Homo sapiens: one gene and its partner. The protein of the gene in region 2 purifies or fractionates together with the protein of the main gene of each other region. This does not show direct contact. Each region holds a gene or a part of one and is shown on either strand. Other genes may lie near its edges. The genes, in order: WDR47 and FAM163A.

Region 1 (11,864 bases), about 71 Mb from region 2:
TCTGTCTCCCAGTCTGGAGTGCAGTGGTACGATCTCGGCTCACTGCTGCAATCTCTGCCTCCCAGGTTCAAGCAATTCTCCTACCTCAGCCTTCTGAGTAGCTGGTATTACAGGCGCCCACCACCACTCCCAGCTAATTTTTGTATTTTTAGTAGAGATGGGGTCTCATCACGTTGGCCAAGCTGGTCTCGAACTCCTGACCTCAAATGATCCACCCGCCTAAGCCTCCCAAAGTGCTGGGATTACAGGTGTGAGCCATGGCGCCTGGCCATGAAGGTATTATTATTATTATTATTATTATTATTATTGTTATTATTATTGAGACAGAGTCTCTCTGTGTTGCCCAAACTGGAGCGCAGTGGTGCAATCTCGGCTCACTGCAACTTCTGCCTCCCGGGTTCAAGCGATTCTCCTGCCTCAGCATCCTGAGTAGCTGGGATTACAGGCGCCTAACACCACGCCTGGCTAATTTTTGTATTATTAATAGAGATGGGATTTCACCATGTTGGTCAGGCTGGTCTCAAACTCCTGACCTCGTGATCTGCCCACCTCGGCCTCCCAAAGTGTTGGGATTACAGGCATGAGCCACTGCGCCTGGCACAGGTATTTTTTAAACTGCCACATTCACTCCGAAGCCCATTCATCTCCTTCAGCATCCCACAGATGAAGCACATGTTCCGCTTAGCTTGATAACAAGGTGAGGCACACTTTGCACTGCTGACGTCACAGGAAAGCTGTCTATAAAACTATACTTCTGATACTGGGCTCCAGCTTTGTTCTCACAGGTAATCATCCTCATCCAGGAGAGCAGCTGTCTGAGCAAACTCTAACTCATGCTCTTATTGCTCTGTCAAAGCTGGGTCCATGACAACCTCAGGTAGGGGAGTACAGGGTAGCAAACCCCAAGTTAGGGCCTCCAATGAGCTTCCTAGCAAGCCAGAGAAAGGGCTTTTCAAAGTTGTAGTTAGTTTTGGCAGTAATGTCATAGTACTGAAGATTCTTCTTTCGGTGGAAGACAATAGATTTTGCCTTCACTTACCTGTCCTTAATATCCACTTTGTTGCCACACAACATCATGGTGATGATTTCACACATTGGCACCAAATCTCTATGCCAGTTAGGCACATTCTTGTACGTAACTCTTGGTGTTACATCAAACATTATGATGGCACACTGGGCTATGGGTTCGATGTAATAACCATCTCTGTTCACCACATTTCTCCTGGCCGGCTGTATCCCATTTATTGAACTTAATACATCTTCTGTTGGTGTGGAACACTTGGGTGATGAACCTCAACACCCATACCTCTCAAATGTGGCTACATACCTCTCAAATTCACCAGTCAAATGATGTTTCACCAAAGTAGTTTTTCCAGTACCACCGCCACCAACCAATACAAGTTTGAACTAGACCTGGGGCTCTCCCTGGGCAGCCATCATGGTGTTCCTTCCAGAAGTGTCTCCTGCCCGTTGGACTGAGTGGTTCTTCTGTTTTTCAAGCACTCTCCCTAGCAGGTGATCGGTTGTTTGTCAGATTGTCCCTGATTAGTTACTCTTTCTAGAGCTAGTAGAAGATTTAAATATTTAAAGGATGCTGGGCTGGGCACGATGGTTCATGCCTGTAATCCTAGCTCTTCGGGAGGCCAAGGGGAAAGGATCATTTTAGCACCAGCCTGGGCAACAAGGCAAAACCCTGTCTCTACTTAAAAAAAAAAAAAAAAAAAATTAGCCAGGCATGGTGGCTTGCACCTGTAGTCTCAGCTACTGGGCTGGGGAAGCGGAGGTGGAAGGATCGCTTGAGCCCAGGAGTTCTAGGCTGCAGAGAGCCATGACTGCCCTACTACACTCCAGCCTGGGCGACAGAGTGAGACACTGTCACAAAAAACAAACAAACAAACAAACAAAAACCCTCTAGAATTCTATGATTCTGACCCAATAATTAATTATTAACGATTTGTTAATAAATGTAATTAATTCCTAGCTGGGCACGGTGGCTCACATCTGTAATCCCAGCACTTTGGGAGACTGAGGTGGATGGATCACTTGAGGTCAGGAGTTCGAGACCAACCTGGCCAACATGGTTATACCCATTCTCTACTAAAAATACAAAAATTAGTTGGGTGTGGTGGCATGGGCCTGTAATCCCATCTATTCGGGAGGCTGAGAAAGGAGAATTGCTTGAACCCGGGAGGCAGAGGTTGCAGTGAGCTGAGATCGCCCCACTGCACTCCAGCCTGGGCGACAGAGCAATACTGTCTCAAAAAACAAAAAAAAAAAAAAAGAAAGAAAATGTAATTAATTCCTAAAGTTTCAGAATATGGGTCCATGGGGAAAAGGTTCTAACTGATAAAAATGTGGGAAATGGGATAAAAAATGAAGTTAAAAAAAAAAGGATACTGGTTCTCAAAACTTCTTGTTTGATCATAAAGATTTAGAAGTGGTTTCTTAGATGAACTATACTAGCAAAATAATTGAGATACTACTTTCAGGAAAAACGTATCTGCCTACTTTTTCAATTTAAACACTCTGTAATGTGTTGTTTGTTTGCTTGTTTTGTTTTCAATATCAAGATCCTGGGTAACATTCAATTATGTTTATATTTATTTGCCTGTCACTTATCATTAAGAGGGTTCATAATGAAGACTTTCTTCCAGGAGTTACTGACTAGGCAATTGAAATTTTGTAGTTCAGCTTTTGTGTGTTGTTTTCTCTGAATGCATAAGTATTTTTCTTAGAAATGTTTCCTCGGCTGGGTGCAGTAGCTCATGCCTGTAATCCCAGCACTTTGGGAGGCCATGGCGGGAGGATCACTTGAGGTCAGGGGTTTGAGACCAGCCTGGCCAACATGGTGAAACTTCGTCTCTACTAAAAATACAAAAATTAGCCGAGTGTGGTGGCACACAAATTAGCTGAGTGTGGTGGCACCTGCCTGTAATCTCAGCTACTCAGGGGGCTGAGGCAGAATTGCTTGAACCCAGGAGGCAGAGGTTGCAGTGAGCTGAGATTGCGCCATGTACTCCAGCCTGGGTGACAGAGTGACTCCGTCTCAAAAAAAAAAGAAAGCCAGGCACAGTGGCTTATGCCTGTAATCCCCAGGACTTTGGGAGGCCAAGGCAGGCAGGCGGATCACGAGGTCGAGACCAGCCTGACCAACATGGTGAAACCCTGTCTCTACTAAAAATACAAAAACTAGCTGGGCATGGTGGTGTATGCTGTAGTCCCAGCTACTCTGGGGGCTGATGCAGGAGAGTCGCTTGAACCCAGGAGGAGGAGGTTCAGAGTGCCAAGATCGCACCACTGCACTCCAGCCTGGGCGACACAGTGAGACCCCATCTCAAAAAAAAAAAAAAAAAAAGGAAAAAAAGAAAAGAAAAGAAAAAAAAGAAATGTGTATCTTCAAGCTCTCGCTTCTTTTATCTTGAACTGGACAAGATTTTGTATTCCCAGAAATATGGTTTAAATTTTGTTTATTTTTAATTTTTATAGTTACATAATAGTTGTAGATATTTCTGGAGTAAATACAATGTGTAATGATCAAATCTGGGTAATTGGGATATCCATCACCTTAGAAATGCATTATTATTATTAAGACACAGGGTCTTACTCAGTCACCCAGGCTGGAGTGCAGTAGTGTGATTATAGCTCATGGTAGCCTCGGACTTTGAGCTCAAACTATCTTCTCACTTCAGCCTCTCAAGTAGCTAGGACTGCAGGTGTGTCTCACCGTGTCTAATTTTTTATTCTTGTTTTTGTAGAGAGGGAGTCTCACTATGTTGCCTAGGCTAGTCTCTAACTCATGGCCTCATGTGAGCCTCTGGCCTAAGCCTCCCAAAGTGCTGGGATTTCAGGCATGAGCCACTGTGCCCACCCATTTATTATTTCTTTTCTTTTTTTTTGAGACGCGGTCTCGCTCTGTCACCAGGCTGGAGTGCAGTGGCCCAATCTCGGCTCACTGCAACCTCCGCCTCCCGGGTTCAAGTGATTCTCCTGCCTCAGACTCCCGAGTAGCTGGGACTACAGGCGCACACCACCACACTCGGCTAATTTTTGTATTTTTAGTAGAGACAGGGTTTCACCATGTTGGCCAGGATGGTCTCGATCTCTTGACCTCTTGACCTCGTGATCTGCCCGCCTCGGCCTCCCAAAGTGCTGAGATTACAGGCATAAGCCACCACGCTTGGCCTGCCATTTACTATTTCTTTGTGTTGGGAACATTCTGAATCTTCTCTTCTAGCTGTTTGGAAATATAGAATAGATTATTGTTAACTATAGTCACCCAATTATGCTATTGAGCACTAGAATTTATTCCTGCTACATAACTGTATTTTTGTACCCATTAACCTCTTTATCCCCCCTTTGCCCTCCACTACACTTTCTAGCCTCTGGTAACCACCATTCTATTCACTACCTCCACGAGATCAATTCTTTTAGTTCCCACATATGTGTGAGAACGTGCAATATTTGTCTTTTTGTGCTTGTCTTGTTTCACTTAACATAATGTCCTCCCGTCCCATCCATGTTGCTGCAAATGACAGGATTTCATTCTTTCTTAATGGGTGAATAAGATTGTATTGTGTGGCCGGGCGCGGTGGCTCACGCCTGTAATCCCAGCACTTTGGGAGGCCGAGGCGGGTGGATCACGAGGTCAGGAGATCAAGACCATCCTGGCTAACACGGTGAAACCCCGTTTCTAATAAAAATACAAAAAAAAAAAAAAAAATTAGCCGGACCTGGTGGCGGGCGCCTGTAGTCCCAGCTACGCGGGAGGCTGAGGCAGGAGAATGGCGTGAACCCGGGAGGCGGAGTTTGCAGTGAGTCGAGATGGCGCCACTGCACTCCAGCCTGGGCGACAGAGCGAGACTCCGTCTCAAAAAAAAAAAAAAAAAAAAAAGATTGCATTGTGTATATGTACCACATTTTCTTTATCCATTTGTCTGTTGATTGACATAGGTTGATTCTATATTTTGGCTATTGTGAATAGTACTGCAATAAGCATGGGAGTGCCAGAAATATTTTTGATGTTTATTCTCTTTACCAGACTGTTACCCCATTTTCCCCTTTTGGGAGGTCCAGCTCACTCTGGACTTTCGCCTCTGTGAGGATGATGTTCTTTTTTCTGTGAGACGGAGTCTCTCGCTCTGTCACCCAGGCCGGAGTGCAGTGGCATGATCTCGGCTCACTGCAACCTCCGTCTCCCAGGTTGAAGCGATTCTCCTGCCTCAGCCTACCAAGTAGCTGTGATTACAGGAGGCTTGCCAGCACACCCGGCTAATTTTTGTATTTTTAGTAGAGACGGGGTTTCACCATGTTGGCCAGGCTGGTCTCAAACTCCTGACCTCAGGTGATCCGCCCGCCTCGGCCTCCTAAAGTGCTGGAATTGCAGGCGTGAGCCACCGCGCCTGGCCGAGAATGATGTTCTTACAGGTTTGTGTAATTGTATTCTTCCTTATGGTTATACTTCCTGGATGCTTAATTAAGCTCGGTTGAACATCACGTATATTTGTGGAATAAGGGGCTTACAACCAACAGGAGTAGACAAAACCTGAACATATTAAATGTTAAGTAACTGAAAAATGCTTTCAAGGCAGATCAGCTTTGCAAAATGAGAAACCAGGAAGGGGACAAACAAACTACTGGAGTTTTCTGGGACGAAGTGGGACCTAGGAAAGCAGCGAAAGAAGGGTAGAAGGCAACATTAATTTCATTAACCTTTATTAATTATCGGGGAGGAGTATGAAGAGTCAATCCTAATGCGCAGTCTTCTCCATTTGCAGGCGACAATCCTGTTCGTGCTATTTTGGGACATGGGGTCACCGGCCAGCTAAGGGTCTACGTCCCTGCCACCAGTCTCACGCTATTGCCGCACCCGTTCTGCTACTCCCCCGGGCCCCTAGCCGGTCCCTCCAAGCCCGACCCCCGCCCGCCCCGCCCAGGCTTTGGTCCGCCCCGCCCAGGCTTTGGTCCGCCCCGCCCCTCCCCGCCCCAGCTTTGGGCCCGCCCCTCCACGCCCCTCCCCGCCCCGCCCCGCCCCGCCGACTCGCCCTTCGGCTCAGGCACCTGCCTGGCCGCCCCGCGCGGCGGGGTCCTGAGGCGCCTCGGGGAAGCGCGGCGATTGGCTGCCGCTCGCGGGTAGAGCTCGGCTCCCCGGCACTTGACAACCGCAGTCTGCAAGAGGCTGAGCTGAGGAGTCGCTGGGCCGGGAGGGGCGGACGTGAGAAGGACGGATTGACGAACTGATGGATTGACGCGCGGGCGGTAGGAGGGAGGACCGACGCCAAACCCAGACCGCCGCCGTCGTGCTCCTGCCGCAGCCCGGAGCCGGCCGCTTCGGGGCCCTGGCCGCCGGCCTCCCAGCCGCGTTCTCCTCCGCCGCTCCTCCGGGCTTGCCCTGGAGCCCTCAGGTGGGTGACTCCGGGAGTCGGAGGCTGGGTCGGTCCGCTGCACACCTCGGGTTGCCATGGTCACCCGTCGCCTCCTGTCACCACCTGACACGGCTCCGACCGGGCGGCCCCGAGGACTGTGTTTGCGGCCCCGGAGAGGGGTCTTTAGTGGGCTTGGGTGCCGACTGGGAGGGGGCTGGGGTCGTGGGTGAGGCCCCAGCATCGCGGGGTGAGGATCTGCGAACTGCTGGGCCCCGGTTCGAGGTCACCGGTCCTGGACCACACCTTTCCCACATTACCAGTTGGATTCTGGGGGCAGAGCGACGCCCCTCGCCCTGGCACTGAGCAGCAAGTGAGCGCGAGGTTCGTGCCCATCTCGCCGCTGCGCCGATTCTTCCTTCCTCGCCCCTTGGTCGAGCCCGTGCGAGAACTGAGGGGCGCGCTCGCGTCCCTTTCTGGGCACGCCTTGGCCCGGAGGAAGAGAGGGAGCGGCGGGGCTGGGAGCCCCGCTGGGGCCGGTTTTGGCCTTTCTCACATCAATGGTCGGGATGGGAGCAGGCCTTTGGGGATCTGGGTGTGGTCGCGGAAAGGGGCAGCGACTCGATTTAGAACTGGGATTGCGCTGGAGGGGCGCCTGCGTAGAAGAACGCAAGGTTGTGGAACTCAAAGGGTTAAACCGCTTCCCTTTATTGGGGAGAAAAATATTGGAACTCTAGCTCTGGGGCGAGGCCATGGGCAAAGGGGGCGGGGGCGGGGGGCGAGGGTAGGCCGGGGCGGCATTTGGGCTTTTGACCAGATGATTTTTCCTTCTCTGTACCCAGACGTGCAGTTAGTAACCGTGCATGGTATCTGAGGGGACCGTTTTTTTTTTTTGGCAACTTGGTTTTCTCTGCATAATGAAAGGAGAAGTCTTTGTTCCACCCAGATTCGTAGGTTGTGATCCTAATACTTATTTCTCTCTTTGTTGGAGACTCTGTAGAATGCCTCAAAAAGTTAATGGCACAGAAATGAACATGTAGGTTTAAAAAATGCTATAAATCTTTTTTTCACAGTAAATTCAAGTAGAATTTTTTTGTCTCCAGTGTTGGCATATGTTGCATTGGCATTTTACTAAGAAGGAGAAACGCCTAAGAGCCCATTTTCCTTTATATGGCATATTGTCGAGGTCTCATTTAGGAAGAAGATGAAATGAATAATTCTACTTTAGGTTTGGGAGATTAGGAGAGATTGCTTCCAATAGGAAAGAAACATTATTACACGGTAATGGAAAAGTCAAGTCACAACAGTATATTGTTAGGTAAAAAAGCCAAAACCCAAACACTTGAATTTGGATGCCATTATGAAGATGTAAATTTTTTTTTTTTTTTGGACGGGATTTTAACCTGTGTTTATCTCCCACTGGTCCACTTCCTGGTTCTTTTCTCCCTCGCCTTAAAAACCAGTACTGTTAAGAATGTGTCATAAGAGAACAGGGGTACTATCCTATGTTACTACTTACATAATGGTGTTCAACCTCTTTTCCTGTTTGTGAAATAGAATATATTAGTTATTTAATGGGCGGCATATGAAATGCTTAATGTATGCTGCAGTTTCAGAAACGCTTTAGTTATGAAAAGATGTGCAGTTTTCCTTAGTAGATCAGTAAGCTGAAAAATCAGATTACCTGTATTTAAGCTTTCTTTTGCTACTGATTGCATTCTTGTAAGAGCTGCTAAGCTTAACATTGACTGATTTCTCATTCTGTAAAATGGTGATGCTTGCTATTGTTTTAGTCTGAGAATGGGCTTTGAGTTGAAAGCACTTTGGAAGGCATCTGTTGATTACCTTTTTTTTTTTTTTTTTTTTTTGAGACGGAGTCTCACTCTGTCATCCAGGCTGGAGTTCAGTGGCATGATCTCGGCTCACTGCAGCCTCTGCCTCCTGGGTTCAAGCGATTCTCCTGCCTCAGCCTCCCAAGTAGCTGGGATTACAGGTGCCTGCCACCACGCCCGGCTACTTTTTGTATTTTTAGTAGAGATGGGGTTTCACCATGTTGGCTAGGCTGGTCTCGAACTCCTAGCCTCAGGTGATCCACCCGCCTTGGGCTCGCAATGTTGGGATTACAAGCTTGAGCCACCGTGCCTGACCCTGTATATTATTTTTGAACAGAAGACTTGAACCCAGGTCTTCAGACTCCAAATCCAATGCTGGCCCACACCTGAGGATACTTCAGTTTTGAGACTATTACACCGAATAGCCAAAGCTTGCATATTTCAACTAATTTTTCTCTATGTTGAGTTTGTTTCTGTTCAAGTGAAAAGATATCCTTAAAAAAGGGTTTATACCGGCTGGGCGTGGTGGCTTGTGCCAGTAATCCCAGCACTTTGGGAGGCCAAAGCGGGCGGATCACGTGAGGTCAGGAGTTTGAGACCAGCCTGGGCAACATGGTGAAACCCTGTCTTTATCAAAAATATAAAAATTAACTGGGCATGGTGGCGTGTGCCTGTAATCCCAGCTATTTGGGAGGCTGAGGTAGGAGAATTGCTTGAACACAGGAGGCAGAGGTTGCAGTGAGCCAAGATCATGCATGCCACTGCACTCCAGCCTGGGCGACAAAGCGAGATTCCACCTCAAAAAGAAAAAAAAAAAGGATTTATACCACACACTCCCTTAAAACCTTTCTTTTGTGTTCTATAGTCTTATTCACTGTAATAGCTCGATCATTGTATCCCAGTTTGTAGCATGTTGTTAATACATAGTAAATGCTCATCACTCATTACCCACCTGAACTTCTCCTGTTTAAATGGCTTCAGATGAATATTATCACAAGTAGGAGTTTCTTCATATAGTATGTTTAACATAATTGATCTCAGTGAACTTTCCAATATTTATTTATTTATTTATTTATTATTATTGTTATTATTTGAGATGGGGTCTCGCTCTGTTGCCTAGGCTGGAGTGCAGTGGCGTGATCTCGGCTCACTGCAACCTCCGCCTCCCAAGTTCAAGTGATTCTCCTGCCTCAGCCTCCCAAGTAGCTGGGATTGCAGGTGCACATACCCCCACACTTGACTAATTTTTGTATTTTTAGTAGAGACAGGGTTTCACCATGTTGGCCAGGCTGGTCTTGAATGCCTGACCTCAAGTGATCCACCCAGTTCGGCCTCCCAAAGTGTTGTGATTACAGGCGTGAGCCACTGCACCTGGCCTGTTTATTTATTTTTTGAGACAGGGTCTCACTTTATCGTTCAGGCTGCAGTACAGTGGCATGATGATAGCCCACTGCAGCCTCAAACTCCTGGGCTCAAGTGATCCTCCTACCTCAGCCTCCCGAGTAGCTAGGACTACAGGTGCTTGCCACCACACCTGGCTAATTTTTGTATTTTTTGTAGAGATAGGGTTTTGCCATGTTGCCCAGGCTGGTGTTGAACTCCTAGACTCAAGTGACCTGCCTGCCTTGGCTTCCCAAAGTGCTGGGATTACAGGCATGAGCCACTGCACCTGGCTCGATATTTTTTAAATTACTGAAATATTTTCAAAAATAAGTAAGCTTATTCCAAAGTAAATTTTTATACTTCACAGCACAGTAGCTCTCCCGCAGCAATTCATTAGCAGTCCTTTTGACACATTGTCCTTACCAAGGCTAGGAGCTCTGAAGGGAAGGAATTTACATTTATTGAGCACCAGTTGCATGCTTGCCACTCTGCTAGGAGCTTGTTCTCATTTTACAAGTCAACATCCTGTTTTAACTGAGAAATAGTACTGGGCTGGGCGAGGTGGCTCATACCTGTAATGCGAGCATTTTGGGAGGATGAGGTGGGAGGATTGCTTGAGCCCAGACGTTTGAGACCAGCCTGGGCAACATAGTGAGACCTCATGTCTACAAACAATTAAAAAAAAAATGCTAGCTGAGTGTGGTGGTGCACACCTGTGGTCCTAGCTACTGGGGAGGCTGAGGTGAGAGAATCACTTGAGCCTGGGTGGACAAGGCTCTACCAGCCTGGGAGACAGTGAGACCCAGTCTCAAAGAGAGAGAAAGAAAGAAAGATAGAAAAAAATAGTACTACAAGCAAAAAGACATAAAAATTTTATACTATTTATAATTACTAGTTATGTAGTATGCTTGACATATGTAACTCAAATAATGTTTTTTTCCTATGGCTAAGTACCATGTTTTGTGACTCTTGTTGTTGTGATGAAAAAGAAAATGGAACCTTTTATAAAATCTTTTGAGAAAATTTTATAGAATTGGGTTGGTTTTTTTTTTTTTTTTTTTTGAGACGAGGTCTCGCTCTGTCCCCCAGGCTGGAGTGCAGTGGTGCGATCTCAGCTCACTGCAAGCTCCGCCTCCCAGGTTCATGCCATTCTCCTGCCTCAGCCTCTCTGAGTAGCTGGGATTACAGGCGCCCGCCACCAAGCCCGGCTAATTTTTTATATTTTTAGTAGAGACAGGGTTTCACTGTGGTCTCGATCTCCTGACCTCGTGATCTGCCCACCTCGGCCTCCCAAAGTGCTGGGATTACAAGCGTGAGCCACCACGCCCAGTCTTGTTTTGTTTTTTGTTTTTTTTTTTTTAGACGGAGTTTTGCTCTTGTTGCCCAGGCTGGAGTGTGATGGCGTGATGTCGGCTCACCGCAACCTCTGCCTTCCAGGTTCAAGTGATTCTCCTGCCTCAGCCTCCCTAGTAGCTGGGATTACCGGCATGTGCCACCACGCCTGGCTAATTTTGTATTTTTGGTAGAGACGGGGTTTCTCCATGTTGGTCAGGCTGGTCTTGAACTCCCAACCTCAGGTGATCTGCCTGCCTCGGCCTCCCAAAGTGCTGGGATTACAGGCGTGAGCCACCGCACCTGGCGATTTTCTTTGAAACTTTAAGAAGAGCTTTGGAAATGAAATTCCGGGAAGTGCAAAAACAGCATTTCACAAATAGATGATGATATAAAGAAATTTTAGGTGTATTCATTGTAAAGAGCCTAGATGATGGGAATTGTTAGTTTCACTGTATATAGTTCTTGATCAGACCACACCTGGAGTGTTGTGCTTTATTATTTATTTATTTATTTATTTTGAGATGGAGTCTCACTCTGTCGCCCCAGGCTGTAGTGCAGTGGCATGATCTCGGCTCACTGCAAGCTCCGCCCCGGGGTTCACGCCATTCTCCTGCCTCGGCCTCCTGAGTAGCTGGGACTACAGGCGCCTGCCACCACGCCCAGCTAATTTTTTGTATTGTTAGTAGAGACGGGGTTTCACCGTGTTAGCCAGGATGGTCTCGATCTGCTGACCCCGTGATCCGCTTGCCTCGGCCTTCCAAAGTGGTGAGATTACAGGTGTGAGCCACCGCGCCTGGACTATGTTTTTTTTTTTTTTTTGAGACGGAGTCTTGCTCAGTCGCCCAGGCTGTAGTGCAGTGGTGCCATCTCGGCTCACTGCAACCTTCACCTCCTCCTGGGACTACAGGCGCACGCTACCAAGCCCGGCTAATTTTTGTATTTTTAGTAGAGACGG
Region 2 (11,255 bases):
GTACTGCTGGTGATGTGAATGTTCCTCTCCCGCACTGCCCGTGGGCAACCTGAACCTGGGGGCCATGCCTTGCTCATCCTTCTGTGTTCTCAGGGCTTTGACAACAGACATTTTCTGAATTTGATGTGGTTAAACTGGTCCTCCACTACTTGTATACTATGTAAACATCTTTATTTTTGGCCTAAGGTGATTTTTTTTAAAAACTAATAGGGCTCCCTGACTTTACCTCTCCTTGCTGGGTTCTGGCAGCCCTACCTGAGAGCCCAACCCAGCTTCTTGCTCCCACCACTGTGGGCAACAGCAGCACAAGAAAAAGCAGCTGCCTTGTGCGTTCCAGAATTTATTTGGGGAAAATTAGAGCTGTTTCCTTTTGAAGTGGAAACGGAGTCAGAGGTGAGCCCTGGCTAATGAGAGGGAGGAGGTTTGCAATGAGAGAGGCTCTCAGGTCTCAGGCTGTTTTTTCCAAACAACAGACAGACTCCCAGCACAGACTTGGGGCTTAGTGGCCACCTTGCTGACCTTTCTCCTTGGGTGCAGACACAGGGCCTCACAAGCTCATCTTCACAGCCTTCCACACCACTGGTGTCTGGACCAAAGCAATGAGAAGCTGCCCTCCTCCTAGTCCTCTTCCTCCTCCCCCTCCCCCTCCCCCTCCTCCCCCTTTCCCTAGGAACATCACATGCACAGTCTACTCAGCCCCAGCCCTAATGCACACACAGAAACAGAAATAAGAGAAATGGAAATCCAAACCCAGAACACTGACTGCTTTGTTTCTGAACTGTGCCTTGTACAAATCTATCCATACTGCAGAAATTTCAACTGATCCATCAAAGCATGCAATGCTCAGCCACATACTGTTATAACCCAAAACCAGGTCTGTAAGCACCCATGTGATGCAGTTGCGCCTGTGCTGCAGCTTACTGCGTAGAGAATGGAAAAGTCAGTGAAGGGAGAGCAGAAAGACATGCTGCTTGATACCAAAGAGCCTGGGCTCTCACATATACCCGAGATAAAGAGATTCAATGAAATAGTGTAGGCTTAGCAGAGTGACTGAAACATAGAAAGCTCTCAATGAAGGCTTTCCACCTAATGGTGTTGGAGGACCCATCTTTTGTGGCTGGAAGCAAGTCCTTCTTCCATTGTTTCTGCTATTCAACAGCCTGTCCCATCACCCACCCCAAAAAGAAAGGCAGTACCTAATATCTCCCCCATCCCCTTTGTGTATCCATCGGCTTCCAGGCTGAGGGATCAGCAAAAATGGGTGCTTGGAAGTAGGGGGAACTGAGCCGGGCATCTGTGCTGATAAGAAATGCTCAAAGGGGCATGTAGGACACACTGATTGATGCAGTGACAACTGCGCCAATAATCTTCCTTCTTTCTCTGGGGCAATACAGCCCTAGACTCTAGGATAATGTCAAACCTTTTTTTTTTTTTTCCAAGCATCTCTCTCTTCACCTTTTTGAGGTCCAAATGCAACACCAGAAATAGCCCTCCTACGTATCTTTTGCCCTTTCTGATGTCCAGTCACAGTGTTCCTCTTGCTCCTTTACCCAATCCTATCCAGTCGCTGACACTTTATCCTGTACAAGGGAACATTAGGGCAATAGAGAAAGGGGTGGTTTCTATTTCTGCAGATTGTTTTCAAGGCTGGATGATCATAACTTGCCTACCCAGCTCAGAGAGCCTGCTGTCCAAAGACACCTCTCCCCAGCTTTCCAAGTACAACTCTGTATATTTCAAAGGAATACTGGATGGCCCAGATACTATGGGCACTGTGCAGTCTCACAGCCCTTTGGCTTTTAATCCAAAGGGAACCTCTCAAGCAACCAAAAGGGGGTGGGGTACGTCACCCCACAATGTTAAGCTGGAAAAGTGTTTGAGGGAACATACCAGGCACAGGACGGACAAAGAGAATTTTAAAATAGTTAACGTATTCCCATGGTTCAGAATTCAAAAGGTACAAAAGGGTTTACAGGCCACTTTTCCTGGAGGTAACAGGTATGATTAGGTTTTGTGTCTATAGTTATACACAGACAAGCAAATACCCTAAGACTCTCCTTCCTCTTGTATAACACGAGCAGCAGCATATTATAAACACTCCAGGCATGTTGTTTTTTCCACTTAGCCATATATCTTGGAAATCATTCCATATCAGTTATATAGTAAACTTACTAATTCTTTTTTCCATGAATGAATAGGACGCTATTTGACTCTCTGGAAGTACCATAAGACACTTAACAAGTCCCCCTTTGATAAGCATGTAAGTTGTTCTTTCACAGTTCGAACAGTGCTATAATGTACATATATCTTTGTGCCCATATGCAAGTTTAACAACAAGTTCAATTCCTAAAAATGGAATCACTAGGTCAGATGGCATGGGCGTTTATAATTTTGACAAGTGTTTCCAAAAATGCCCTCCAAAGTTGTACCAATTTACTCTCCCAGCAGCAATATATGAAAGTACCTGTTTTTCTACAACCTCATCAACGGTTTATCTCTTTGATGTTTGCTAGTTGAAAGATTTGTACTTAATAAGAAATTAGTCCTTTGTGTAGGAGTTAAACCCTTGAGTGACAGAGAGAAGGAAGTGCTGGCTGTTTACCAGGCCAGCACTTTCTGAAGTCTAGAGTCTAATGGGGTTATAAATATCTCTTGGATCTACAAGTAAGAGTCTTTATTCACGACAATTCTGGATTTCCAGCTACCACATGTGTGTCTGTTCTTAATTGGAAGAAAGTGGCCCCGAGGAAGGAGTAGTGACTTTGGAACCAAAGAGACCTGGGCTTCAAGCTCTGCTCTGCCATTAACTAGCTTTATGATCTTGGCAAATCGTTTACCCTACCCCCAAACTCAGTTTCATCACACGAAAAATGGGGAAATAATAGTAATTTTGCAAAACCTTGTGTCTGGCACATAGCAGGTACTTAATAAATGTTAGCAACTTTCATTAATGTTAATAATCACCAGGCCAGATTCTAAACCCCAGGGCACTTTTCACAATGGACAGACCCTGGAATGGCCCTACCAGAGTCAAATGACTTTTTTGTTAAGTGGCCACCCAGAAGATTCCCAACTTCTCCTCTCATCCACCTCAGCCTTGTAAAGTTTGCAGATCAGGAAAATCCCAGCGTGGGCCTCTGGGTGAGGACTGGACTGTGCTGGGGCCAGGCTCCCCTGTTACCAGCTGATGTTTGCACTCAGGCTGAAGCACTCCCTGAACTAAGCCGGGGTCATTTCCAGTTACAGACGGCAAGCTAGAGAAAAAACAGAGATTCTTGGGCCAAACAGGGGGACCTGCTCTCATCTGCACGAGCCCATCTCACCTTGCCTTTCCAGAACAGTATGCCTGATGAGGTCACTGAATGCAGATCTCTAGCCCTGGCAGGGCCGCTGCCGATCTGCCTGATGCCCCAGCAGGACCCTCCGAGAGCCACACATTACTTCCCCTCTGGACGCCAGCATGACCCTGTCTGTACCTGCTGGTTTAGATTCTCTTAGGCATGGGAACTGAAACCTCCCTAGAGAAGGCTAAGAAAATCTGTTTTCAGAGCATGTACCTTTACTGTTCCTTCCCCGGGGTCCACCTCTTTCAGGGTCTGAACGTCTGTTACATGCAAGTATTTCATTAGGGCAGAAGGAAAGCTGCCTTTCCCCTCAGGACACAGACTCCAGCGAATCTTAGGCAAAGCGAACATGCGGGATTGAAGCCCGCAGTTATTGTTTGTCTCCCACACGACATAAAACATGTGTCTGGCTCAGCTGCTAGAGGACCAAGCAGGACACAGACGCAACTGCGCAGACGTCGGTCCTGCCAGCCACGCTGCGGCCCCCTCGGAATCTCAGGATGGGGCCCCCTGGGCGCCCTGGGGGAGGGCCCAGGTGGGCGAAATGACAGGAGAAAGTGCCTGCGGGCCTCCGCCTGCAGGTTGGATGACTGCGTCCCCGTCACGTCAAACTTGCCAGGACTAGCAAACTTCCAGGGCCCCACAGTTCCACTCAGAGGAAAGGAACCCCCAGTGTGACAGGAAAACACGGCTGGTGTGTGTCGGCCAAAGGGCGCTGACCGAGGGAACAGATCTGCACCCCTGACTTCCCTCGCGGCCTTCGGAGCCGCAGAGAACCAGGATGCCACCCACCCAGGGCCCCGGCGCGCGGCTCTCGGCCTCTACCCGCCCCACCCAGGCCAGGCCGGGTGGCGGGGTCCCAGCAGCCCAATGCGGGCCTCGTCCCCACACTGCCTTCTGCTTGCCCGCTCTGCTCTCTGCTTGGCCAGGCCCCCCTCTGGGCCGCGGGGCGGAGGCTTCCGTGTGGCCGGCGCCTTGAGCGCGCAGGGCCCTCTGGAATCGGAGTGCGGTCGCCCGCTCTGGGGCCTCGGGAGCAAGGACACCGCGGCCCCACGGGCACGTCCGGCTTCTCCGTCCTACCCCCGCTGTCCTGGCCCCAGACTCGCTGGCCGAGACGCCGGCTCCCACAGGCCCTGCCGCCTGCATGCCCACGCCGCGCCGCGAAGGCACTTCGCCCTCTTTATTTTGTAAAACTTCGGAAAAATCACCAGCAAACCGAGCCCCGGTCTCAAGGCTGCCCACAGTTGCCGGCACGAATCCGGACTCACTGACCGACGGCGGCGCATTGGCCCAGCAGACCCCGCCGGTCGGCCCCCACCCTACCCGGGTCCCCTGCCCCGGCCTCATGCTCCCCGGGTGGCGGCGGGCGCGAGGCGCAGCAGCAGCAGCGGCGTCCGCGTGAGGTCCGGCCCGGCTGAAAGCGCAGAGAAGCGGGTCGCTGCAGACACGCTGAGTAGAGCGCCTTCGGCACGGCCCGGGGGCAGGGACCCGGCAAGTCCGGCCCCGAGGCGCGAGCACCGCCACCCGCGGTCTGGCCACGAGGCCGGAGATGCCCCCGAGTCGCCGCGCCCCTCGGAGCGAGAGGCCCCTGGCGCGGAGAGGGAGAGCCAGGGCGCAGACCCAGACCCAGTGGGGAACTGCTACGCTGAAGGCGGCGCGGTGGGCAGAGGGAGGCAGCCGGGGCGCGCTTACCCGGGTGTTGAGGCGCCCTCGAAAGTACGCGGTGGCCAGACACATCCCCGCGCGGAGCCCGAGCCCGGCGGCTCCTCAGCCCGCCCGCGCCCCGCCCCGCCCCTCCGCTCGCTCCCCTGCACGATGAGGCCCCGACCCGTTACCGCGGCTGAGCAGCTCCGCTCGGGCAGCGACTCCCGCGTTCGGCTCCCACGGGGTCGCAGCGCGTCCTTCCGGGCGCCAGCGGCTGGGGCGGCACACGTGAGGCTCCGCGGCCTCCCCGGCGCTCCGAGGACTGCCCTGCTCCGGGCGTGGAGCCTCATCGCCCCTCCAGGTGGCCAGGGCTGGGGGCAGGTACCGCGCGACCTGATTGGCGCTGGCCGGAGTCCGGGGAGAATCCCCCGCCAGAGAGGCTGATGCACGCGGGCCAAGTGAAGCCACGCAGTCAAACAGCGCAACGGGCGCCTTCCAAACACCCCTGCTTAGCTCCGCTGCCTTTTTGCCTAAGAAATGTAAACGCGGGAGGCGGGCGCCCTGGGAACGCCTCAGTACAGGGGACTTTGCGCCCTACAGATCGGGTCCAGGACGGAAAATTCGGAGAGCATGAGAATCTTAGGGACCAGGGTGTGTCGCTATCCACTGGAAAGAGACTGCCTCGAGAGCCTCCCGAAGGGCTCCTCTGTGTTCCTATTTCCGGCCCGCACTGTGCCCTGGAAATCCAGGGACACCTGGATGTCCCCGCCGCTGAGGGGTACCCGGGCCTCGTGGCAGGGCGGGATCAGATCAGTCAGGGTGTGATTAGAGCTGTGACGGTGAAGTCTGGCAGGAAGAGGCAGGAAGGGAGAGAAGCAATGCCTCGACACGAGGAGAAACCTGAATGGTGCGCTAGATTTCTTGTCTGAAATCACCTTCTTTTAATGTCTTAAAACTCTAGGAGTTGCTTATGTGCTGTAGCCCAGCCAATAAGTTCTGACATCAGTAATTCAGAGGGTCTGCTGAGAGAACATGACGGCCTGAGAGGGGATAAGCTGTCACTTCTCCGCACTTCCGAAGCATCTCTATATGGAACGTTTACCTGTTCCGGTCTGATCATCTTTCTCTTGATCCTGCTTTCCGATCTTGATTGGACTGAAGACAGCGAGGACAGAGGGGTGGGGTCAACCCGGTTAATGCTCGAGGAGGGAGCGTTCCCACTACATCAACAGTTTTCCTCTCTTCTTAGGCAGGTTAGTTCTGGGGATTCAAGGCAAAGGTGATCAGGGAATCCATTTGAAAAACAAAAACAGAAAACTCCAAAACATTTAAAAACTGTGGACCCTCAGCCTAGGTCCAACTTCTAAAGAAGGGGAGTAAGAAATTTAGCACCTGGAGCAACCTTATTATTCCTAATACACTGTTAAAAAACAAAAATCCCAAGGCAAGCCACCACCTCATCATTCCAGCAAGTCTACTGTTGTTGCAGCACACTCCACTTTTTACTCTAACTCTACTCACAGGTTTTACATTTTGAGCTCAGATTTTCATGTGCCGTCTTTTCTCAGCACAGTTAAGGCTCGTGCCTACATTCTTCCTCATCTCAAAGGCAAAACAATGAAATATGAAGAGGACGTGTGATTTTGTTATAAACTGTAACACAGAAAAGTGAAAACAACGTACCTTCATAGCCTAATGAATCATAAACCAAACACCACCCAGGTCATTGCTACCACCCCAGAGGTTCCCCTGCTCCACCAATTCCCTTCCACAAGTCCTTCCCTTCCCCCTAAAGCAACTATCCTGACTTTATGGTAATTACTTCCTTACGTATCTTTATAGTTTCTACCAATTTGTAATGTATCCCTAACCACTACAGTTTAGTTTTGCTTGGTTTTGAACTTTCTATAAATTGAATAATATTGCATGCATATTTTTGTGTGTGCCTGGCCTCTTCTTCCATTTGGTTGTAAGAGTCATCTACTTTTGTGGCATGTAGTTGTAGTTCATTCATTTTCATTGCTACTTAATATTCCCTTGTATGGACATATCACAATTTCTTTGTCCATTCTGGCACTTTAGATATTTGGGTTTTTCCCATTGGGGCTATTACAAGTGCTATTGCTAATGACATTTTTGTGTATATCTCCTGGTATGCAAGTGCAATCTTTAGGATGTATACCTTGGGGTGAAATTACTGGACTATAGGGTATGCATATATTTAGTTTTATTAGATCATGCCAAATTGTTTTCCAAAGTGGCCACAAAATTTAGACTCCCATCAGAGATGTACGGTAATTGCCATTGCTCCGCATCCTTGCCAAAATATAATATTATTAGACTTCTTATGTTTTGCCAGTCTGGCGGAGATGTAATGGTGTCTCACTGTGATCTTCGTTTCATATCCCTAATTACCAATGAAATTGGGCACTTCTACATATGTTTATAGGCTACTTGAGTTTTCTGTTTTCTGAGTGCCTGTTCAAATGTTTGCCCATTTTTTTGAGCTGACTTTTTCTTATTGATTCATAAAAGCTGTTTATAAAGTCTAGCTGCTACCATGCCTTGGTCAGTTAGAGACTGCAAGTATCTTCTACTCATTTAATGGTATCTTTTGATCAAGAGTCGCTTTTTAAATTAGAACTTTCATTTTGAGATAATTGTAGATTTGTAGGCAATTGTAAGAAATAATACAGAGAGATTGCAAGTACCCTTCACCCAGTTTCCCTCATTGGTAATATCTTGCAAAAACTATAGTAAAATATCATAATTAGGATATTGACATTGACACAGTCAAGATACACAACATTTCCACCACCGCAAGATCCCTCATATTGCCCTTTCGTAGCCACACCTGTTTCCCCTGTGCATCCTTCCCCATCTCTAATCTCTTGAAACCACTTACCTGTTTCCCATTTCCAAAATGTAAAATGGTACATTTTGTGATTTCAAGAATGTTATTTAAATGAAATCATTTGTATCCTTTCGTATCAATATATGTAACCTTTTGAATTTTTTCCCACGCAGCAACCTGAGTTGCAGGTTGTTGTATCAGTATTTTGTTCCTTTTTCTTGTAGTATTTCATGGTATGCATGTACCACCAGCTTGTTTAACCATTCACTTAATGAAGGACATTTAGGGTTTTTTCCCCAGTTTCAGGGGTATTACAAATTAAGTTGGCTGAGGTGGGAGGATTGCTTGAGCCCAGTAGTTCCAGACTGGCTAGGCAACATAGTGAGACCCTGTCTCTACATAAAAAAATGAAAAATTAGCTGGGTGTGGCTGCACACACCTGAAGTCCCAGCTACACAAGAGGCTAAAGGGGGAGGATCCCTTGAACCCAGGAGTTGGAGGCTGCAGTAAGCTAGGATTGAACCACCGCACTTCAGCTTGGGAGAACAGAGCAAGACGTCTCAACAACAACAACAACAACAACAACAAAAACCAAATAAAGTTGCCACAAACATTTGTTTACAGGTTTACAAGTGAGCATACATTTTCATATCTCTGGGATAAATGCCCAGGAGAACTATTTCTAGTTTGTAAGGTAAATGCCCAGGGCAACTATTGCTAGATCGTATGGTAGTCACATGCTTAGTTGTTAAAGAGACTGCCAGCCTGTTTTCTAGAGCAATTGTACCATTTTACATCCCAACAAGGAACATATGAATGATCCAGCTTCTCCACAACCTTGGCAGGATTTGGTGTTGTCAATATTTTAAAACTTTCACCCATTCTTATACATGTATAATGATGTGTCATTGTGATTTTAAATTCCATTCCTCTAATGACTACTGATGTCAGACGTCTTCAGGGGCTCGTGCTTACTTGCCATCCTTATTTCCACCTATATGCAATCTTTGGTGAAATCTCTGTTTACGTCTTTTGGTCATTTGCTAATTGGATTGTTTTGTCTTTTTGACTGTTGAATTTTCAGAGTTCTCTATATAGTCTAGATAAGGGGTGTCCAGTCTTTTGGCTTCTCTGGGCCACATTGGAAGAAGAAGAATTGCCTTGGGCCACATATAAAATATAAAATAAAAAACACTAACAACAGCTGATGAGCTAAAAAAAAAATCACAAAACAATTCTCATAATGTTTTAAGAAAGTTTAAAAATTTGTGTTGGGCCGCATTCAAAACCATCCTGGGAGGCTTGTGGCCAGTGGGCCATGAGTTGGACAACCTTGGTCTAGATCCTGGTCCTTTTTCAGATCTGTGGCTTGCAAGTATTTTCCCCCAGTCTTTTCATCCTCTTTACATGCACTTTGTAGAGAAATTTTTAAATTTTGATAAGGTCTAATTTTACTATTTTTTCTATTATGGAGCATGTTGTTGGTGTCAAGACTAAGAACTTTCTGGCTAGCCCTAAACCCCAAAGGTTTTCTCCAATTTTTTTTTTTTCTGTTTCATGTTCTGTTGGTAATCCATCATAAGTTAATTTTTGTATAAGATGTGAGGGCTAGGTTGAGCAGCTCCTTCTCCTTCTCCTTCTTCTCCTTCTTCTTCTTGCCTAATAAGGTCCAGTTGCTCTGGCATCATTTGTTAACCATTTAATTGCTTTTGCACCTTTGTCAAGAATCAGCTGGGCATAGTTGTGTGGGTTTATTTTTGGATTCTCTATTCCATTCCATTGATCTATGTGTCTATCCCTCCACCAATACCATACAGTCTTGATTACTGAAGCTATATAATAAATCTTGAAACTGGGTAGTCTGATTCTGCCCACTTTATTCCTTCTATTCAAAATTGTTTTAGCTCTTCTAGTTCCTTTGCCTTTCTGTTTAAATATTAGAATAATCTCCTCTATATCTATTAATACAAAAATTCTCATTGATATTTTGATATAAATTAGGGAGAAAGCATTCAGTCTTTCATGATTAATTATAGATTAGCTATAGGTATCTAATTTGCCTTCTATTTGTATTTTTCTGAGAATTTTGTCATAAATGGGTGTTGAATTTTGTCAAATGCTTTTACATTAGTTTGTATAGCCATGTGATTTTTTCTTTTTTTAGCCTTTTAATATGGTGGATTGCATTGATTTTTGAAAGTTGAACCAGCTTTGCATTCCTGGAATAAAGCCTACTTGGTCAAAGTGTATAAATCTTTTCACATATTGCTAAATTCTTGGTTTTTAGATTTTTTAAACACAGCTTTATTGAGGTATAATTGATACAAAAAACTACATATTTTTGTGATATTTTTGCTTTTATTATTATTTTAAATTGACATGTAATAATTGTACATATTCATGGAGTACAATGTGATACTTTGATACAAGTATATAATGTGCAATGATCAAATCAGGGTAATTAGCAAATACATCACCTCACACATTTATCATTTCTTTGTGTTGGGAACATTCAAAATCCACTCTTCTAGCTATTTGAAAATATACAATTAATTCTCACCCTAAAGTGCTACAGAGCACTAGAATTTATGCCTTCTACTTAGCTGTACTTTTGTATCTGTTAACCAGCCTTTGGTCATCCCCTCTCCCTATTCCCCTTCCCTTCCTCTCCACTTCTATGATACCAACTTTTATAGATTCCACATGTGCCAAGAACATGCAGATTTATCACTCTGTGCCTGGCTTATTTAACTTAACCTAATGTCCTCCAAGCTCATCCATGTAAACTGCACCTATTTAACGTATTCAATCTAATGAGTTTGGACATACTGCGAAACCATCACTACAAATCAAGGTGATACACATAGGCATCACCTCTAAAAGTTTCCTTGCATCTCTTCGCTTTTTAAGGATTTTTTTTTTTTTTGAGACAGAGTCTCACTGTGTTGCCCAGGCTGGAGTGTAGTGGTGCGATCTCCACTCTCTGCAAGCTCTGCCTCCCAGGTTCATGCCATTCTCCTGCCTCAGCCTCCCGAGTAGCTGGGACTACAGGCGCCTGCCACCACGCCCAGCTAATTTTTTGTATTTTTAGTAGAGACGGAGTTTCACCGTGTTAGCCACGATGGTCTTGATCTCCTGACCTTGTGATCTGCCCGCCTCGGCCTCCCAAAGTGCTGGGATTACAGGTGTGAGCCACCGCGCCCAGCTGCTTTTTGGTCTTTTTTGATGGGGCGTTCGTTGTTGTAAGAACACTTAACATGAGATCTACCCTCTGAACAAACTTCTAAGTGCACAGTCCAGCATTGTTAACTATAGGCATTATGTTGTATGGCAGATCTCTGGAATTTATTCATCTTGTATAACTGAAACTGTATAGCCATTGAACAACAACTCTTCATTTCCTCCTTTCTCCC

What was found.
Region 1: the proteins of FAM163A (region 2) and WDR47 purify together in Homo sapiens (affinity purification with mass spectrometry; 2 studies listed by BioGRID and IntAct, with this or other methods). This does not show direct contact.

Annotation. Positions count from the first base shown.
Region 1 is NC_000001.11:109,036,399-109,048,262, reverse strand, and holds the start of WDR47 (WD repeat-containing protein 47), read left to right. Parts: upstream 1-6,160; 5' UTR 6,161-6,401; exon of another isoform or gene 6,402-6,743; intron 6,744-7,290; exon of another isoform or gene 7,291-7,313; intron 7,314-7,337; exon of another isoform or gene 7,338-7,395; intron 7,396-11,864.
Region 2 is NC_000001.11:179,737,348-179,748,602, reverse strand, and holds the start of FAM163A (protein FAM163A), read right to left. Parts: upstream 5,313-11,255; 5' UTR 5,180-5,312; exon of another isoform or gene 5,037-5,179; intron 1-5,036.